2 separate regions of the Homo sapiens genome follow, and region 2 is linked to region 1. The links come from fine-mapping of genetic effects on gene expression. A gene starts in region 1. The other region holds a variant in brackets. All regions are shown on one strand. Distances are between the middles of the regions. Region 1 holds the start of SPNS3 (SPNS lysolipid transporter 3, sphingosine-1-phosphate (putative)). Region 2 holds the start of LOC124903899 (a long non-coding RNA gene).

Region 1 (10,340 bases):
GCATTTCAAACACTCAAAGAAACAAGCATCCCTTGGCTGGGCACGGTGGCTCACGCCTGTAATCTCAGCAGTTTGGGAGGCCAAGGCTGGCGGATCACCTGAGGTCAGGAGCTTGAGACCAGCCATGGTCAACGTGGTGAAACCCCGTCTCTACTAAAAGTACAAAAAATTAGCCGGACGTGGTGGCGGGCGCCTGTAATCCCAGCTACTCGGGAGGCTGAGGCAGGAGAATTGCTTGAGCCTGGGAGGTGGAGGTTGCAGTGAGCCGAGATCGCGCCATTGCACTCCAGCCTGGGCAACAAGAGCCACGCTCCATCTCAAAAAAAAAAGAAAGAAAAAGAAAGAAAGAAGCATCCCAAAGGCACAGACATTCACACACACACACTGACACATAAGCACGCAGCCACACGGCTCCTTCCCTCCTCTTCATATGGGAACACAGATATAGATACAAACAGGCATTCCCAGAGAAACACACCTGCAGAGGCACAAATACACACACACACACACACACACACAGGAACTCACTCTCACAGACATGTACACCCAGCCTCACTCATACACCCAGACACACAGACACATGTGCAGTGAGATGTGCACCCAGAGGCCTGCCCGCGTATGCACAGGCTCAGGGCTGCCATCCACACTGCAGTCAGAGGAGCGGCAGCCCCCTGTCGCTGCTCAGTGCACAGCCCTTTACTTAGGCCACTGTGTAAACGGAAGTCCCTGGAGCTGTACAGCACAGTGGCCTCGCTCATGCACAAACACTGGAAATGCATAGGTGAACATGTACATAAAAAGACGAACGTGTCCTGGCTTGCACGCATGTGCACACACAAGCCTGTTCTTCCAGAGGCACAGCAGTGGGCACCCAGCCTAATGTAGAGAGAGAAAGTGGGTCTCCCAGACACCAGGGTCTGTTTCCTGATAGCCTCTTGGTGTCCTAGAAAGGGTCGGGGTCTGCAGCACCTGCTCACGTGAGCCATGCGGCTCTGGCCCTGTCATTATTATGAAGAAGAACAATCCTCACTTTCATCAGTCAGGAGGTGACTGACAGCCAGGCCCTGAGCTGTACACTCGCAGTTGTCATCCTAAAAGAGGGGGACTGTCATTGCCCCCATTCTACAGATGAGGAAACAGAGGCTTTAGCGGCCCAAGGTTGCCCGTCTGAAGCTGGGGGAGCTGGGGCTCAAATCTCAGCCAGAGGCAGCCTGTCCACACACCCAGAACCACAGAAGGGGAGCAGAAGCCCCCAAGTGGGTCCCCGCAGAAACACCCACACCAAGAAAGCCCTGCGTGCACACCTCTAAGAGCTGCCCCATGCACATGAAGATCAAGGGATCAGAGGAGCAAAGCAAAAAATCCTTGCTCAGGGAGGGACGTGGTGGCTCACGCCTGTAATCCCAGCACTTTGGGAGGCCGAGGCCGGCAGATCTTGAGGTCAGGAGATCAAGACCATCGTGGCTAACACAGTGAAATCCCATCTCTATTTAAAAATACAAAAAATTAGCCAGATGTTGTGGCACAGGCCTGTAGTCCCAGCTACTCAGGAGGCTGAGGCAGGAGAATCGCTTGAACCTGGGAGGCGGAGGTTGCAGTGAGCTGAGATCATGCCACTGCACTCCAGCCTGGGCGACAGAGTGAGACTCCGTCTCCAAAAAAAAAAAAAAAGAAATCTTTGTTTAGACATTTAATTTGTCCCCAATTGCCACTGCAACCTGGCATACAAACTGTTATGTCTTTTTCCCCTTTTAATATTTTGTTTTTTATTTTTATTTTATTTATTTATTTTTGAGACTGAATCTCACTATTTCATCCAGGCTGAAGTGCAGTGACACGATCTCAGCTCACTGCAACCTCTGCCTCCTGGGTTCAGGCAATTTTCCTGCCTCGGCCTCCCAAGTAGCTGGGATTACAGGTGCCCGCCATCACGCCTGGCTAATTTTTGTATTTTTAGTAGAGACGGGGTTTCACCATTTTGGCCAGTCTGGTCTCGAACTCCTGATCTCAGGTGATCCACCTGCCTCGGCCTCTCAAAGTCCCCCTTTTATTATTTTAAATACACAAAGAAGACAGTCATTGGAAAGAAAAAAAGGAGACAACACAGGTAAGCAAAATAAATAGCTAAACGAAAATGCTCCAAATTGTGCCCATCTTCCATTTTCAGGAATGAGGACTCATCCCCTTGTTTTCTCTCCTCCTGGGCTCCTCTCAGCCCCATGGTACTCTAGAGGTGATCCAGAGCCAAGCGTGCACCCACCCTTGCTTTCATCTGTAGCCTACCACCCTGGCCCCATAAGAGCTGTTTCCTGCAAGAACATTTTAGCTGTTTACCCCCACCAGTTCCCAGATGCTCAGCACGGTTTCACTTCTCCAGGTCTCTATCCCCACAGTAACCACAGCCCCCTTTCTTGCACATACAGAGGAAGTGCTGATGGAGAAGGGACCTGGACAGGCAAGACTCAGGGTCTTAGGGCCCAGCCAGGGACCTCCAGGGCTAGCGGCAGAGATAGCGGGTCCCCAGGCTCGTGGGTTCAGAGAGCTCCACACTGGTGATTCCTGGCTCCCATCCACCTCTTGCCCCTTCTCGCCTTTGCGTGCCCTTGGCCCACACTCCAACTCAGGCCTCCTCAGCTTTGGCCTGATCCACTACAGCAGCCTCTGAACTGACTCCCTGGCTCATTTTGCCTCCATCAGGGCCTCAAATCCAATTATATGGCTCCCCATTGCCCAAGGCAGAAAGTCCAAGCTCCCAGTCTGGCACCCAAGAAGCTCTGTTCTCACCCCATACACCCCTTTGGGGTTTTTTGTTTCATGTGTTTTGTTTTGCTTTGTTTTGGCTTTTTGTCTTTAGGGGTTTAGATAAGATCTTGCTCTGTCACTCAGGCTAGAGGGCTCACCGCAGCCTCAAGCAATCCTCCCGCTTCAGCCTCAAGCAATCCTCCTGCTTCAGCCTCAAGCAATCCTCCTGCTTCAGCCTCCCGAGAGGCTGAAGACATCACTGTCCCTGGCTAATTTTTTAAATTTTTTGTAGAGACAAGGTTTTTCTATGTTACCCAGGCTGGTCTCGAACTCCTGACCTCATGTGAGGAGAAGCTCCTGACCTCTGAGCTCCTCAAAGACGATGACCAGGTCTGGGGATGGCTCTGCAGCCCCTAGAGTTTCATGATTCCATAGCCACTCTCTGGCATGCTGAGCTGGTAACTGACAGATCGATGCCCAGGTCTCAGAGATGCCTGGCAGCTGCAGGCACCCTCCTGAGCTCCCAGCCCGGCCTGTGCCTCCCCCTTGTCTGGCCGCACCTCTCCGCCTCGCAGGACTGCCATCAACCAGCCTCTATCTCTGCCCCATGAGATGGTCATTCCTGAGTTCAGGAACTCCAAGTCCGATTTCCTCCCTGGGTCCACAGCAGCCAGCAGGGGGTCCTGCCCACAGTTAGTGCTCAGCCGGTCTTGAATGAATGAATGACAAGAAGAGAAGAGCAAGTGGAGCCTCAATCAGCTGTTGTTATTGTTGTTGTCTTTGTTTGAGACGGAGTCTCGCTCTGTCGCCCAGGCTGGAGTGCAGTGGCACGATCTCAGCTCACCGCAACCTCCGCCTCCCGGGTTCAAGCGACTGTCCTGCCTCAGCCTCCCGAGTAGCTGGGATTACAGGCGTGAGCCACCACGCCTGGCCCCTGATCAGTCTTGAATGAATGAATGAGTGAGTGAGTTAGTGAATGAGTGACAGAAGACAGAGCAGGTTGAGCCCTGAAGCCTGCAAGAAGGAAGGCAGGACGTGTGAGGTTTGCGAGCAGCCTGTTGTCCTAGAAACACAGCCAGCAGGAGCTATTCTTGTCTGGCCCAGGCTACCCTGTCCTCCACCTAGAACCTGGGGGCCTCTGCCTGGAAGTCCTGCCTGCTGTCCTCACCCACCCACCCCTCATTATGTCTCTGGCCCCACCCCCACTGTGCCCTCCCTTAATTTTTAAAAAATATTTATTTATTTATTTATTTTTTATTTTTTATTTTTTTTTTTTTGAGACAGAGCCTTGCTCTGTCGCCCAGACTGGAGTGCAATGGTGGGATCTTGGCTCAATGGTGGGATCTCGGCTCACTGCAACATCCACCTCCCAGGTTCAAGCAATTCTCTGCCTCAGCCTCCCCAGTAGCTGAGATTACAGGTGCCCGCTACCATGCTCGGCTAATTTTTGTAGTTTTAGTAGAGACGGGGTTTCACCATGTTGCCCAGGCTGGTCACAAAGTCCTCACTTCAAGTGATCCGCCCACCTTGGCCTCCCACAGTGCTGGGATTACAGGCCTGAGCCACCGCACCCAGCCCTAAAATATTTTTAATTTTTTAAATAGAGACAGAGTTTCGGCTGGGCGCAGGGGCTCATGCCTATAATCCCAACACTTTGGGAGGCCGAGGCAGGCGGATCACCTGAGGTCTGGAGTTCGAGACAGCCTGGCATACACGGCAAAACCCCGTCTCTACTAAAAATACAAAAACTAGCCTGGCATGGTGGTATGCGCCTGTAGTCCCAGCTACTCGGGAGGCTGAGATAGGAATCGCTTGAACCTGGGAGGCAGAAGTTGCAGTGAGCCGAGATCGCGCCACTGCACTCCAGCCTGGGCAACAGATTGAGACTCTGTCTCAAGAAAAAAAAAAAAGGCCGGGCACGGTGGCTCATGCCTGTAATCCCAGCACTTTGGGAGGCCGAGGCGGGTGGATCACCTGAGGTCAGGAGTTCGAGACCAGCCTGACTAGCATGGTAAAACCCCGTCCCTACTCCTCCTCTACTCAAAATACAAAAATTAGCCGGATGTGGTGGTGCACGCCTGTAATCCCAGCTACTCGGGAGGCTGAGGCAGGAGAATCACTTGAACCTGGGAGACAGAGGTTGCAGTGAGCTGAGATTGCGCCACTACACTCCAGCCTGGGCGACAGAGCGAGACTCTGTCTCAAAAAAAAAAATAAATAAATAGAGACAGAGTCTCACTATGTTGTCCAGGTTGGTCTCAAACTCCTGGGCTCAAGCAATCTTCCTGCCTCAGCCTCCCAAAGTGCTGGAATTACAAGCGGGAGCCACCATGCCCAGCCTGTGTCCCTTCTTAGTTGAGGCTGGATTGGGAACATCAGTTGGTCCTCCCCGATTCGAGCACAGCTGAAAACCACCTCTAGAGGTGAGAACACCAGAGATGGGCCCAGGAGCAGAAAGATGGGTGATGGCTGGAAGGCCACCATGGATCTGCAGCCCCTGGCTGGTGGGCACAGCAGCAGGTACTGCCCAGGGTAGCCATCCCCTCCTCACCTGCAATGATGAACCAGTTCATGTAATTCAGGAGGTTGATGTAGCAGAGGACGGCGGCAGCCACGTAGGCCCTCCACGGGGGCAGGCTCCAGGAGGTGGGCGTGATGGGAGGGGGACACTGCCTGCCTGGCCCTGGGGACTGGCCCTGCAGACCTCCTGGCCCAGGCTCAGGGCACTCCGCTGACATCCCCCCAGCCATGCCAGCCTGCAGCTCTTGGCCTGAGACTGGCGCCAGGATGAAGCAACATTAGCTCAGCACGAAGTCACTTCCTGTGGGGTCCCAGGCTCCAAACCTCAAAGCACCTGCCCTAACTGTTGGGCGTCTTATCGCAGGTTCCTCCTGACCCCACGGCAGCTTCACCAGTGCGATTTCCCCATCGTCAGCCTCTGAGACCTGCTACGGAGGACAAGGGCTCCTGGCACCCCCACCCTGGGGACTGGACAACTCTGTGGTCCCCTTGATCTAGCCTGCAGCTTCAGTGGCTGCAGTGAGGAAGGGAAGCTTCCAGGGCAGGAAATGAGATGAGCCTCCCAGAGTGCTGCTTGCTGTGAGATGGTCTAGCTGCCCGTACGGGACTGTGAACCAATGCCTTGAAGCCGGGGCAAATGAGGAAGGCTGGGCATTGGCCAGGACAGCAGCATTGCACTCGACTGCCAGGCAGGATGAGCACCTACCCAGGATCTAAGGTCCTTCCCGGAAAAACAAAGGTAGCAGAGGGGGCTGCCTACAAGAAGACAGCCTGTGTGCAAAACTCATCAGTGGGGGCTAAATCTGGGGGGAAGACTTCAGTGAGGGGGGAGGGTGTCAGCACGGTCACGAAGCATCTCTTGATAGATTGCTTATTAGTAACAAAAGGAAAAAGAGTAACTATACAGTAGAGGAATCAGACATCTTGACCAAGGGGTTAAAATAAATCACCTGTGAGAGGCAGGAGGGTGTCGTGTGCCTCCAGATGTGAAGGTCTTCGCAGGTCACAGCATCATCTATGTGGCATTCCAGCCAGGAAGGCACAACCGGAATCTCATCATGAGAAGACATCAGCCAGACGCGGTGGCTCGCACCTGTAATCCTAACACTGGGAGGCCAAGACAGGAGGATCATCCAAGCCCAGAAGTTTGTGACCAGCCTGGGCAACATGGTGAAACCCCATTGCTACAAAAATACCAAAAAAATAAAAAATTTTAAAAAAAAATAGCCGGGTGTAGTGGTGTGCGTCCACAGTCCCAGCTACTTGGGAGGCTGAGGTAGGAAGGATCGCCTTAGCCTGGGAAGTCGAGGCTGCAGTGAGCCATGTTCGTGCCACTGCACTCCAGGCTGGGTGACAAAGCAAGACCCCAACTCAAAAAAAAAAATTTTTTTTTTAATTTTTAAAATGAAAAAACATCAGACAAGCCCAAATTGAGAAACACTATTTCTTTAAAGGGACTGTATATTGAAAAATGTCAGAGTCATGAAAGACTAAGAAAGACTGAGGGAGCTAGGCGTGGTGGCTCACGCTTGTTATCCCAGCACTTTGGGAGGCCGAGGCAGGTGGATCACCTGAGGTCGGGAGTTCAAGATCAGCCTGACCAATGTGGAGAAACCCCGTCTCTACTAAAAATACAAAACTAACTAGGCATGGTGGCAGGTGCCTGTAATCTCAGCTACTCGGGAGGCTGAGGCAGGAGAATTGCTTGAACCCGGGAGGCACAGGTTGTGGTGAGCCAAGATCACGCCATTACACTCCAGCCTGGGCAACAAGAGCAAAACTCTGTCTCGAAAAAAAAAAAATATTCTGAGGGACTGTTTTGGATTAAAAGCAACAAAGAGACAAGATAGGCCAGGCGCGGTGGCTCATGCCTGTAATCCCAGCACTTTGGGAGGCCCAGGCGGGCGGATCACGAGGTCAGGAGTTCGAGACCAGTCTGGCCAACATAGTGAAACCCTGTCTCTACTAAAAATACACAAAAAAGTAGCTGGGTGTGGTGGTGTGCACCTGTAGTCCCAGCTACTCAGGAGGCTGAGGCAGGAGAATCATGTGAACCCGGGAGGCAGAGGTTGCAGTGAGCCAAGATCGTGCCACTGCACTCTAGCCTGGGTGACAGAACAAGACTCCGTCTCAAAAAAAAAAAAAAAAAAAAGAGAGACAAGACAATAAGACAATTAAGAGCAGTACAGGATCCCAACCTCGCTCCTGTACTGGATCAACTGATAAAACTGGATCAGGAAGAAATAGCATATCAGCATCTGTGAACTATGGTTATGTAAGTAAATAAGTAAATATCCTTATCTGAAGTATCTAGAGGTACAGGGCCATGATTTATGCCACTCATTCTCAAACGGTTCAGGAAAAAATATTAGATATGTATAGTAAGAAAACAAATGGGGCAAATATTAATAATAGATGAATCTGGGTAAAGATTATAAGAGTTTCTTTACGCTATATGATAAACTTTCTATAAGTTATAAATTATATCTAAACAAAAAGTTAAAGCATAAAATGACAAACCAATTTAAAAATGGGTGAAGAGCCGGGCATAGTGGCATGGACCTGTAGTCCCAGCTACTCTGGAGGCTGAGGTGGAAGGATCACTTAAGCCTGGGAGGTTGAGGCCACAGTGAGCTATAATCATGCCACTGTACTCCAGCTTGGGCAACAGAGTGAGATCCCATCTCTAAAGAAAAAAAACATCAGGGGGACAAAAATGGGCCAAGGAGTTGAACAGACATTTCTCTGAAGATATACAGGTGACCGACAAGCACATAAAAAGATGTTCAGGCTGGGCACAGTAGCTCACGCCTGCAATCCCAGCACTTTAGGAGGCTCAGGTGGGTGGATCACAAGGTTGGGAGTTCGAGACCAGCCTGGCCAACATAGTGAAACTCCATATCTACTAAAAATACAAAAATTAGCTGGGCGTGGTGGCATGTGTCTGTAATCCCAGCTATTTAGGAGGCTGAGGCAGGAGAACTGCTTGAACCCGGGTGGCAGAGGTTGCGGTGAGCTGAGATCACACCACTGCACTCTAGCCTGGGTGACAGAGCGAGACTTCATCTCGGGGGAAAAAAAAAAAAAGAAAGAAAAATGTTCAACATCACAAGTCATTAGGAAAATGGCAGATTGAAGCCACCATAAGATATCAGTTCGTACCCACTAAGACGGCTATAATTTTAAAAAGAGAGAGAGAGGAAATAACAAATGTTGGTGGAGAGATTGAAAGCCTCATGCATTGCTGGGAATGTGGAGTAAGGCAGCCGCAGTGGAACAAAGTTTGGCAGTTCCTCCAAAGGTTAAACATAAAATTACCATATGGCCCTGCAATTCCAATCCTAGGTATATATCCAAAAGAACTGAAAACAGGCCAGGTACAGTGGCTCACACCTGTAATCCCAGCACTTTGGGAGGCCGAGGCAGGTGGATCACGATGTCAGGAGTTCAAGACCAGCCTGGCGAAGACAGTGAAACCCTGTCTCTACTAAAACTACAAAAAAATTATCCAGGCACGGTGGCAGGCGCCTGTAATCCCAGCTACTCGGGAGGCTGAGGCAGGAGAATCACTTGAACCCAGGTGGCAGAGATTGCAGTGAGCCTACATTGCACCACTGCACTCCAGCCCGGGTGACAGAGTAAGACTCTGTCTCAAAAAAAAAAAAAAAAAAAAAAAGAATTGAAAACAAAGACTATTTTGAGCCTCTAATCTCAGCACTTTGGGAGGCCAAGGCAGACGGATCGCTTGAGGTCAAGAGTTCAAGGCTGGGCGCGGTGGCTCACACCTGTAATCCCAGCACTTTGGGAGGCTGAGGCAGGTAGATCACAAGGTCAGGAGATCGAGACCATCCTGGCTAACACGGTGAAACCCTACCTCTATTAAAAATACAAAAAGTTAGCTGCGCATGGTGGCGGGCGCCTGTAGTCCCAGCTGCTCAGGAGGCTGAGGCATGAGAATGGCATGAACCCAGGAGGCGGAGCTTACAGTGAGCCAAGATCACGCCACTGCACTCCAGCCTGGGCGACAGGGTGAGATTCCATCTCAAAAAAAAAAAAAAAAGAGTTTGAAATCAACCTGACCAACATGGTGAAACCCCGTCTTTACTAAAAAATCCAAAAAATTTAGCTGGGCATAGTGGCACACACCTGTAGTCCCAGCTACTCGGGAGGCTGAGGCATGACAATTGTTTGAACCCTGGAGGGAGAGGTTGCAATGAGCCAAGATGGGACCACTGTACTCTAGCTGGGGCAACAGAGCAACTTTGTCACTCTGTCTCAAAAAAAGAAAAAAAAAAAAGAAAAGAAAAGAAAACAAAGACTCAAACAAATACTTGTACATAAATGTTCATGGCAGCACTGTTCATAACAGCCAAAAGGTGGAAACAGCTTAAACGCCCATCTGATAAATGGGTCAAGAAAATGTGGCATAATCATACAATGGAATAGTATCCAGTCATAAAGAGGAAGGAAGTACTGATTCATGCTACAACACGGATAGACCTTAAAAACATTATGCTGGCTGGTCACAGTGGCTCACGCCTGTAATCCCAGCACTTTGGGAGCCCGAGGCAGACAGATCACCTGAGGTCAAGAGTTTGAGACCAGGCTGATCAACAAGGTGAGACTCCATCTCTACTAAAAATACAAAAATAATCCGGGTGTGGTGGCACCGCACTTGTAATCCCAGCTACTCAGAAGGCTGAGGCAGGACAATGGCTTGAACCTAGGAGGTGGAGGTTGCAGTGAGCCGAGATTGTGCCACTGCACTCCAGCCTGGGCGACAGAGTGAGACTCCGTCTCGGAAAAAAAAAAAAAGAAAACATTATGCTAAGTGAAAGACACCAGACACAAAAGGCCACATATTGTATGATTCCATTTATAGAAAATATCCTGCACAGGTATAGTCACAGAAACAGAAAGTAAATGGTTCCTAGAGGCTAAGAGGAGAGGAAAATGCTTAATGGGAAGACAGTCCCCTTGGAGAGTGATGAAAATGTTTCAAAACTAGATAGAGGAGATGGTGTCACAACACTCTGAATCCACTCAATGCCACTGAATTATATCCTTTAAAATGGTTA
Region 2 (9,116 bases), 52 kb before region 1:
TACCAGACTCCACTCCAGCCTGAGTGGCTGGGTTCCCCCAGGCTGTTATCGTAACCTCGACCCACCAGGACTGGCCCCAAAGAGGCAGGAGGTGGGAGTCTGGGTTGGCTGCAGAGGAGATATTGGTCTCTGTCACTTGCCGCGTCCACCAGCCCCAGAGCTCCCACTCTGCCCCAAACCACTTTAGACAATAGCTTCCTATAAACTCCCAGCTGGGCACCTCGTGTGGCTCAGCCTTGGGAAGTACCGCCTTGCCCTGCCCAGCAACCCAAATATCAGAATGCACTTGAGTCATAAGAAACTACCCTGGATTATAGGATTAAAGCCCCAGCTCCTGGACCTACATCTGACGCCCCTCTGATCCCAGATGGCCTCTCTCACCTCCTCTCCCCGCTCAATGACACACGCACCCTCCTCTCTGGCCATACCACACCCCTCCATGACTCACTGCAAATCTTCTGCCCCACTCTCCCCCTCTTTGTGGGTCCATCCCCTGCATCTAGAATTCCCTTTGCCCCCCACCTTGTTACCAACTCCAAAGCCACTTCCTTGAAGGCTTCTGGGGCACGGAAGCCCTTACTCTGCCCATAGGTGTGCCACACTTGCCTGTCCTGCTGTGGGCTGCGAGGTCCAAGGGCAGGGCTGGAGTCTGATTCACTGCTGGACACCCTGATGGGCACCCGCCGATACCAATGCATGTTTGTAGAGTTGGCATGAACGAGGTTCTTGCTCTTCCTCTACTGGACTCTGGGTGGGGAGGTGGCAGCTGGTGTTCTTTTTTTTTTTTTTTTTTAAGACAAAGTCTCACTGTGTCACTCAGGTTGGAGTGCAGTGGTGCCATCTCCCTTCACGACGAACTCCACCCCCCATCCCCAGGATCAAGCGATCCTCCCACCTCAGCCTCCCAGAGCTGGGACCACAGATGCGTGCCACCACGCCCAGGTATGTTTTGGTATTTTTGGTAGAGACGGGGTTTCACCATGTTGCCCAGGCTGGTCTTGAACTCCTGACCTCAAGCAATACATCAGCCTCTGCCTCCCAAAGTGTTGGGATTACAGGCGTGAGCCGCTGTGCCCAGCTGAGTGTTCTGACCCTTGGGCGGCCCTCACTCATTTTCCGGGAGCCTCGCCTTGCAGGGGTCCTCCCTGGGGCTGTTGGGAGGAAGGTTCAGACCCTGGAGCTGGGCTTCTGTGGGTCTAGACCCAGCCTGTGCTAATCACATGAGGCCCAGGCTAGAAAGCCATGTCAACACACCTCTCAAACACAGCCAGGGAGTCAGGGAGCCACCTAGGTCACACAGCCAGTGAATGTTGAGAGGGACCGTGGCATCCTGGCTCCTGCCCAGTTGCTGCCTCCTTCTCAGGAAAAACAAAATATCCTCACAGATCTTTTACCTTGTAACTTGAAGGGCTGCCTGTTGCATAAGCTCCAAGCATTGAGTCACGGTCAAGGGCCTGGCTAGCCTGCAGGGAGGGCTGGCTGTGGTGCGGCCCTGCTCCTGGGGCTTGTTGCAGCCAACAGGGAGGGCTGGGGGGCACCCCACAGAAGGCAGGGACAGAGCAGCAAGCATCAGGGGCTGCGCAGGAGTCTCGGTCGTTGCTCTGCCTGCAGCTGCTGGGAGACAGGCACAGCCTGGCACAGCGAAGGTGGCCATCGGTGAGTGAGCAAGTGATCGCCTGGCTGGGCACCAGGGGAGGCGGAAAGAACATGAGAACAAGCCTCCCCACTGCTGCCCGCCTGGAAGCTGTCGATCTCCCACAGGGCCCGCTGAGCCCAGCTGCTCTGAACCCAGTGGCAAGCGTGGGCCCCGCAGAGCCAGCCCTCCCCATACGCTGTGCTGGGGTCAGAGCGTGGACCCAGGGAAGACCGGGGCTACAGAACTGGGCAGGCCAGGAGGATCCCTGCACGGCCACTCAAGTCCTCAGCAGGGTTCTGGGGCCGCTGCGCCCGTGTCTGTATAGGCGTGGGTTCCTCTGCGTGGTTCCCTGGAACTTGGAGCCACATCCCCACCCCAGCACCCAAGTGGAAACTCATCTCCAAGAGCAAGATTCAGCCCCCACGTTTTGTTCAAAGGGTGGAGTTGGCTGGGCACGGTGGCTCATGCCTATAATCTCAGCACTTCGGAAGGCCGAGGCTGGCGGATCACCTAAGGTCAGGAGGTCAAGACCAGCCTGGCCAACATGGTGAAACCCTGTCTCTACTAAAAATACAAAAATTAGTTGGGCGTGGTGGCACATGCCTGTAATCCCAGCTACTTAGGAGGCTGAGGCAGAAGAATCTCTTGAACCTGGGAGGCGGAGGTTGCAATGAGCCGAGATTGCGCCACTGCACTCCAGCCTGGACAAGAGCTAAACTCCATCTCAAAAACAAAACAAAACAAAGAGTGGAATCACGTAGAGGGTGTCCTGTGCCTGTGACTTTGCAGAATGGAGAAGCTGGGTCAGAGTGGGAGGTCCAGGCTGCGGACCCCTAGAGACCCATGCTGAGCCAGCCCCCCAGCTTCCCCACTTCAGGACAGCCCTGCATCCTTGGCCTGGACTGCCCATCCCGTCCTCACCCACTTCCCCTCCAGCAGAGGCACGAGAGGCTATAAATAACACGGCTGTCTACAGGCCCAAAATCCATGGGCTTTGTACTGGCCTCTCTTTATTCAGGGCCCAGCAGCAGCCAGGCTGGAGACCCCAGGCTGGGGCAGCCTTGAGCGGGATGCAGGCACAGGCCCAGGCCTCCCACGCAGAGTGCTGACAGCTCCATTCCCAGCCCAGCCACAGGGTCCTGCCAGCTCTCCAGCCGGGAATTCAAAAGTGGCAGATGTGCCTCAGCCGGAGTCCCCGAGGACAGCCAAAGAGGAACCGAGGCACTGCTGCTGTGGGGACCAACGGGAGGCTTGCAGGCAGGACGAGTGTAGGCAGGGACCTCAGGGCTCCTCTGTAGAGGCGCCAGCGCCCGAAAGTAGGCCTTGTCTCTCCAGGTCGTTGCTGTCCACATCATTGCTGTCTGGGGTCCCTGCAGGAGGAAAGATGCTCAGCCTGCCCGAAGGTTGCAGAAGGTGCTTTGGGACCAGGCCTGGGCCTGGGCACGGGCTGTCAGGAAATCCTCTCTGTCCCAAATGCAGAATACATTCCAGATCCAACCCCTTGTCATCACCTTCAATGCCACTGGCGTGGTCTAGGCACCACTCTCCCCTGGAAGGGGAGTCGGCTATGCCTCTCGGCCTCAACACTGACCCTCCTACAGTCTGTTCTCAACACAGCAGCCAGGGAGATGCTTTGGCAACATCAATCAGACCACCTCGGTGCTCCTCTCCTGGAAGCCCCACAGCAGCTCCCGTCTCACTCTGAGCAAAAGCCACTGTCTTTACAAGGACTGCCTGCTCTGGCCCCGTATCCCTCACCCCTACCACTGTCCCTCTTGCTTCTGCTGCAGCCACACTGGCCTCCTTGCTGATCCTCAAACATATCAGGTGCATTCCCATGGCAGGGCCTTTGCATTGATTGTCCCCACTGCCGGAAGCGTCTTTCCCCAGGTCGCTGAACGGCTCACTCCCTCGTTTCCTCCAGATCTTTGCTCTAGTTTCGCCTGTGCAGTGGGGATCCTTGCAGCCTGCACCTACCTGTCCCTTTTTTTTTTTTTTTTTTTTTTTTGAGACAGTCTTGCTGTCGCCCAGGCTGGAGTGCAGTGGCGAGATCTCAGCTCACTATAGCCTCCGCCTCCCGGGTTCAAGTGATTCTCCTGCCTCAGCCTCCTGAGTAGCTGGGACTACAGGTGTGTGCCACCGCACCTGGCTAATTTTTATATTTTTAGTAGAGACAGGGCTTCACCATGTTGCCCAGGCTGGTCTTGAACTCCTAACCTTGTAATCCGCCCGCCTTGGCCTCCCCAAGTACTGGGATTACAGGTGTGAGCCACCGCGCCCGGCCCCTTTCTCCTTCCTTTCCTGCTTTATACCTCTCCATAGCACTCGTCACCCTGAACATGCTATATCTTTAACCTTTTCTGTTTCTGGTCTGTCTTCACCAACTACAGTGTCAGTTTCTACAGGGGCCTGGACTTGGCCTCATTCTTTCACTCCCCAGCATCTGCAACCTTCCCTGGTACATAGCAGGGGTGTACTAAGCATTTCTGGATGAATGAACAAACAAACTGGCCAGGGATTCAGGGGGTGGCCAGTGCTGTCTGTCCCTAGGGTGCCGGCCCTGAGCCGGGCCTGGTGCAATGGGTAGGGTACCTGTGACAGGCTGCCAGGCCCGGGTCTCGTCTCTCTCCAGGTACAGCGCAGTCAGCAGGAAGCAGCCGCCCCCCAGGGCGATGACAAAGGCGCAGCACAGGAAGCTCTGCTGCAGGCTGCGGAAGCGCTGCAGATAGGAGTCAGGGCGCCTGGCCCGCAGGACACTAGAGATCTGCGGAGGAGAAGGGATGAGTCTGCCAGGCCCACCAGCCTGGCCCCCAGACCCTCCCCACCCCACACACGCAGACACGTCTTACAAGTCCTGTGAGATAGGGGCTGCCAGCGTCTCCCAGGATGTGGCCCACCGTGATCTGAAGTGCCTCTGCCGTCCCCCGGCATCTGGGCACCACCACAGACTGCAAAACATAGGCACAGCAGGGGGGCACCCCAAGTGAGGGCACCCTTGCCTGCTGTTCCCCACCTGCCAAGGACCTGCCTGGAGGAGTGACAGGCCATTCAGGTGAGTGGGATGGGAGGGAGTCGACGGTCCCCAAGGTCTAAAGTCCCACCCCAGAACATCAAGACATCAAGCCCATCTGAAGCTTCCCCAGTGCCCCAGGATGGGGGTGCCAAGGCCCCTGATCAGGGCCACCCCTCTTGAGAGTTTGCTCTTGAACTGGGAAGGAACCAGGCATGCATGTGACCACAGTGAATGAGGCTGGGGTGTCCCAGCTCAGGGGCCCAGGATGCAGCAGCACAAGCGGGCAGGGCGAAGAGCGGGTGCATGCCAGGTGTCTGCATGTGCAGGCAATTGGGCAGGGGTGGTACGGAGGGCTCAGTCCTCTCAGGAACCTCAAGGCCCCTGGGGCAGAGACCAAAGGCGGCCTTGCTGGAGAAGCCCGCACGACTCCACGGACAAGGCTGAGAACATAAAGAAGATGAACTCTGGGCCAGGCGCGGTGGCTCACGTCTGTAATCCCAGCACTTTGGGAGGCCAAGGCGGGTGGATCACCCGAGGTCAGGAGGTCAAGACCAGCCTGGCAACATGGTGAAACCCTGTCTCTACTAAAAATACAAAAACTAGCCGGCGTGGTGGCACATGCCTGTAATCCCAGCTACTCGGGAGGTTGAGGCAGGAGAATTGCTTGAACACGGGAGGCGGAGGTTGCAGTGAGCTGAGATCGTACCACTGCAATCCAACCTGGGCAACAAGAGCAAAATCCCATCTCAAAAAAAAAAAAAATAAAAAAAATAAAGAACTCTGGTGTCACACACTCAGGTTCCGATCCAGATCCCCACTCGCTAGCTGTGTGACTTTGAGCAAACTGTTTCACCTTTCTTCCCTCAGTCTCTCCATCCCCAAGTGGGGGTAATAATGGTACTGATCTTGAGAGTTTTATTCATTATCGTTATTCGTCTGCTACCTGGAGGCTTCGTGTGGACATCAGACCAAAATAACGCTCTGAGACAGGATGCTCCAGGCCCTTGAACTCAGCTGCGCCTTCTGCCTGGCGTGCCTTCCACTCTCTGGTCCAGCTGGAGCATCTATATTTGTCATTTAGGACTTA[C/AC]GTTTCGGTCATCTCCTCTGTGAAGCCCTCTCAGAGTTCAGGTACCTGCCCTGAGCTCCCGCAACTCCTATGCACACCCCTAATTAACGCATGTCTCCCAGAACTGGGAGGGGCCCTTTCTCTGTCCACCACCCCTTATTCCCTATGTTGTGTGGGCAACAAAGACCCTTAATTTCTCTTGGGGTCCCTGCAAGACACCAGGCACAGAGGGGACTAGCTGAAAGTTTGCCAACCAAATAACTCAAGTAGGTCCATCTGGGAGACTATTCCCAGGAGAAAGTCTGCCAGAACCCAGGGCTACAGCAGGGGATGGAAGGAGGGAGGGGGAGGGGACTCAAGCAGAGACCACATGGTCACATGAACCCAACTGGACAGCCACAGGGGCGCTTACACCCTGGAGCCGTATCCCCAAGACCTAGGTGTCCATGATCTGAGGCCTTGAGTTAATCAATATTAGCTGGGCACAGTGGCTCACACCTGTAATCCCAGCACTTTGGGAGACTGAGGCAGGTGGATCACTTGAGGTCAGGAGTTCAAGACCAGCCTGGCCAACATGGCGAAATCCCATCTCTACTAAAAATACAAAAATTAGCTGGGTGTGGTGGCGCGTGCCTATAATCCCAGCTACTCAGGAGGCTGAGGCAGGAGAATCGCTTGAACCCGGGAGGTGGAGGTTCTAGTGAGCCGAGGTGGCACCACTATACTCCAGCCTGAGTGAAAGAGCAAGATCCTGTCTCAAAAAATAATAATAAAATAATAATAATTGCCAACATTTATTGAATGCTTGCTGTATACATTTTATATATCAACTTGAACAACCCATGAGAGGGAGATGATGATCACCTGCATTTTTACAGATGAGGAAAACCTCCACAGGGAGGGCAAGTGACTTGCCCAACATCACCCAGCCTGAAATAACAGGGCTGAGAGAGGATTGCAGGCCTTCTCCCTCTAGGATCTGGCCTTTTGACCACTCTGCTGTGATGGGCAAGGAGGAGCCGGTGTTTCTAGCAATATTTATGCATTTGTAATAGAACATTCAGAAATCTGAGAAAGATGAGGAGGACAAGTTCATCACTAGCCCTGTAAACGGATGGCAGAGTAACTGGCAAAGAGACGGGGAAAGGCATTCCAGGCAGGGGACAGTGTAAGCGACGGTGTGGAGGGAGGATCCCAGGGACACGATCTCTGGATTCCAGAATCCCAGGGGACAGATGCAGGGGGTTTGGTGGTGGGCAGGGCAGAGTGGCAGGAGGCACTGTAGTGACTCGCTGGTCCCAGGGTCACTGGGACTGAGCCACCATGTACAGGTGGCAAGAGAAACCGGGCCTCTTGCCATCACCAGGATCTGTCAACAGGCCTGAGAAGGAACTGACCAACAGCTTTGCACCTTCCCCAAGGACTTCCTTCTCACCCCATAATTATGTGATTACTCACTGGTGGCTCTGGGAAGGCAGGTGAGGCTTCCTGGAGGGAGGAACCTGAATGTTCAGAAAGGTCCACATGGAGGCTGGGGCTGCTGGGACCCCCACAGTTAGGTCCAGGTAGGCTGGCCCCTTCCTCCTCTCCCAGGAACCCCAACCTGCTGGGCCCAGCTCAGTCACTGCTGCCAGTGGCGAGAGAGGTGGGTCTCCCCCAGCCTGTTCCAAGTCCTCATTGTCTCCGTGCAGCCAGCAGCCAAGGCTGGGCCCACAGAAGCTGGAGAGCCCAGGGGGTAATTTCAGAAATAAGAGGCTTTGGGTTCCCAAAAATCCAGGCTCACTCTATTCTGAGACAAAAACACCTCTGTTTCTGGCTCTCCCTTCTTAGAAGGGCCGTTCCCTTTATAGCCGAGGGCGAAACCAGGGCCACCCAAGGGCTTGCAGCAAGTCGGAGCAGCAGCCACCAGGCAGCCTGCCTCCTGCACCCCCACCCAGGCCTCGCCCCCAGACGCCCCTGAGAGGGTGAGACAGGCCAGTGAGCAGACAGCTACCTGGGGGGCAGAGGCTGAGCAGGGAAGCATGGAGACCTGGGGCAGGGGGAGAACGCAGAGGTGACAACTCTCCGGGGAACTGTGGGGACGTCTGCTGAGGGGTGGGAGATGAGCCTGTGGCTGGATTCCAGGACCCCAGAGGACAGGGCTGAGAAAGAGGGAATGAGCTCCCCTTCTGCTCTAGCCCCCCAACTGGTTGGGATCCAGAGATCGTGCCCCTGGGATCCTCCCTCCACACCTTTGCTTACACTGTCCCCTGCCTGGAGGGGGATTGGGGTGAGCTGGCTCTGGGCCATCCTGAGTGGGGCGGGGACAGACAGCAGGGCTGGGAGGGAGCTGAAGACCTCATGACTAGGTTTCGGGAGGCAGGGAGCTCTGCCTGGGGAGATGCGGGTTCAGGGGACACGATCTCAGTCTCCAGGGAGCAGGGCCCCTCTATGGCCCAGCGGGGCCAAGGGGAGGCTGGCAGAGGTGGGTCTTGGCTGTGACTGAACCAAATCATTTTCATCAACAGAAACCCCCCGAGAGGCAGGGGCTGCCCGAGGTATGCAGAACGAGCTCCCCATTGGAGGCGTATGTCAACAAGGGGATGGCTAGAATTTGGCAAAGCATTTATGGACTGGGGAGCTTGCGGCGTGAGACCAGTGTTCTCAAAGCGTGCTCTACGGAATGCTACGGCAGGATCACTTGGGAAGTTCATCAGAAATGCAGGTCCCTGGACCCCAGCACGGACCCACTGAATCAGACTCAGAGGACACAGGGCCTGGAATCTGGGTTTGTCACAAGCTCCCTCAAATCTGACTCTCATGCACAATGACGTCTCCAAGCCACCGGACCGGAGAGCCCCTGAGGTCCCTTCTCCAGAGATAACCTGGATTCTCCCCATTGTGGAGATGGCATCAAAGAGAACAGTGTCCTGGACAGGCGCAGTGGCTCACACCTATAATCCCAGCATTCTGGGAGGCCAAGGGGGGCGGATCATGAGGTCAAGAGATCGAGACCATCCTGGCCAACATGGTGAACCCCGTCTCTACTAAAAATACAAAAATTAGCTGGGCGTGGTGGCGCATGCCTGTAGTCCCAGCTATTCAGGAGGCTGAGGCAGGAGAATCGCTTGAACCCAGGAGGCAGAGGTCGCAGTGAGCTGAGATCGCACCACTGCACTCCAGCCTGGCGACAGTGCGAGACTCCGTCTCAAAAGTAAAAAAAAAAAAAAAGAGAGAGAGAGAGCAGTGTCCCAAGGAAGGGATGATCTGGAAGTCAGTGGGGCCCACACGCCCACTCAGGAATCTGCAGGACGCAGGTGTGAGTTCATTCTATCCTTATAGCCTGGGGTGTCAATGGTGGTTGCCACCGCTCTACCTACTGGACAGGTGAGCAAACCAAGACCCAGAGAGGTTCAGTCACT

What was found. PIP is the estimated chance that this variant, and not a neighbour inherited with it, causes the effect.
Region 2: its variant is fine-mapped to the expression of SPNS3 in whole blood (TOPMed, PIP 0.94).

Annotation. Positions count from the first base shown.
Region 1 is chr17:4,429,120-4,439,459 of GRCh38, reverse strand. It overlaps SPNS3 (SPNS lysolipid transporter 3, sphingosine-1-phosphate (putative)), which reads right to left and starts at 5,520. Exons shown (of 12, transcript NM_182538.5): 1 at 5,294-5,520. The coding sequence starts at 5,492. RefSeq lists enhancers at 1-71, 4,804-5,458.
Region 2 is chr17:4,481,696-4,490,811 of GRCh38, reverse strand. SPNS3 (SPNS lysolipid transporter 3, sphingosine-1-phosphate (putative)) reads right to left here. Exons shown (of 12, transcript NM_182538.5): 10 at 4,486-4,584; 11 at 4,229-4,400; 12 at 2,608-3,006. The coding sequence ends at 2,918. LOC124903899 (a long non-coding RNA gene) reads left to right here and starts at 4,360. Exons shown (of 2, transcript XR_007065583.1): 1 at 4,360-4,688; 2 at 8,223-9,116. It overlaps SPNS2-AS1 (SPNS2 antisense RNA 1), which reads left to right. Exons shown (of 3, transcript XR_001752763.2): 3 at 821-939. RefSeq lists enhancers at 151-651, 1-1,161, 4,290-4,369, 9,084-9,116. The variant C/AC (reference allele first, on the strand shown) is at 5,737.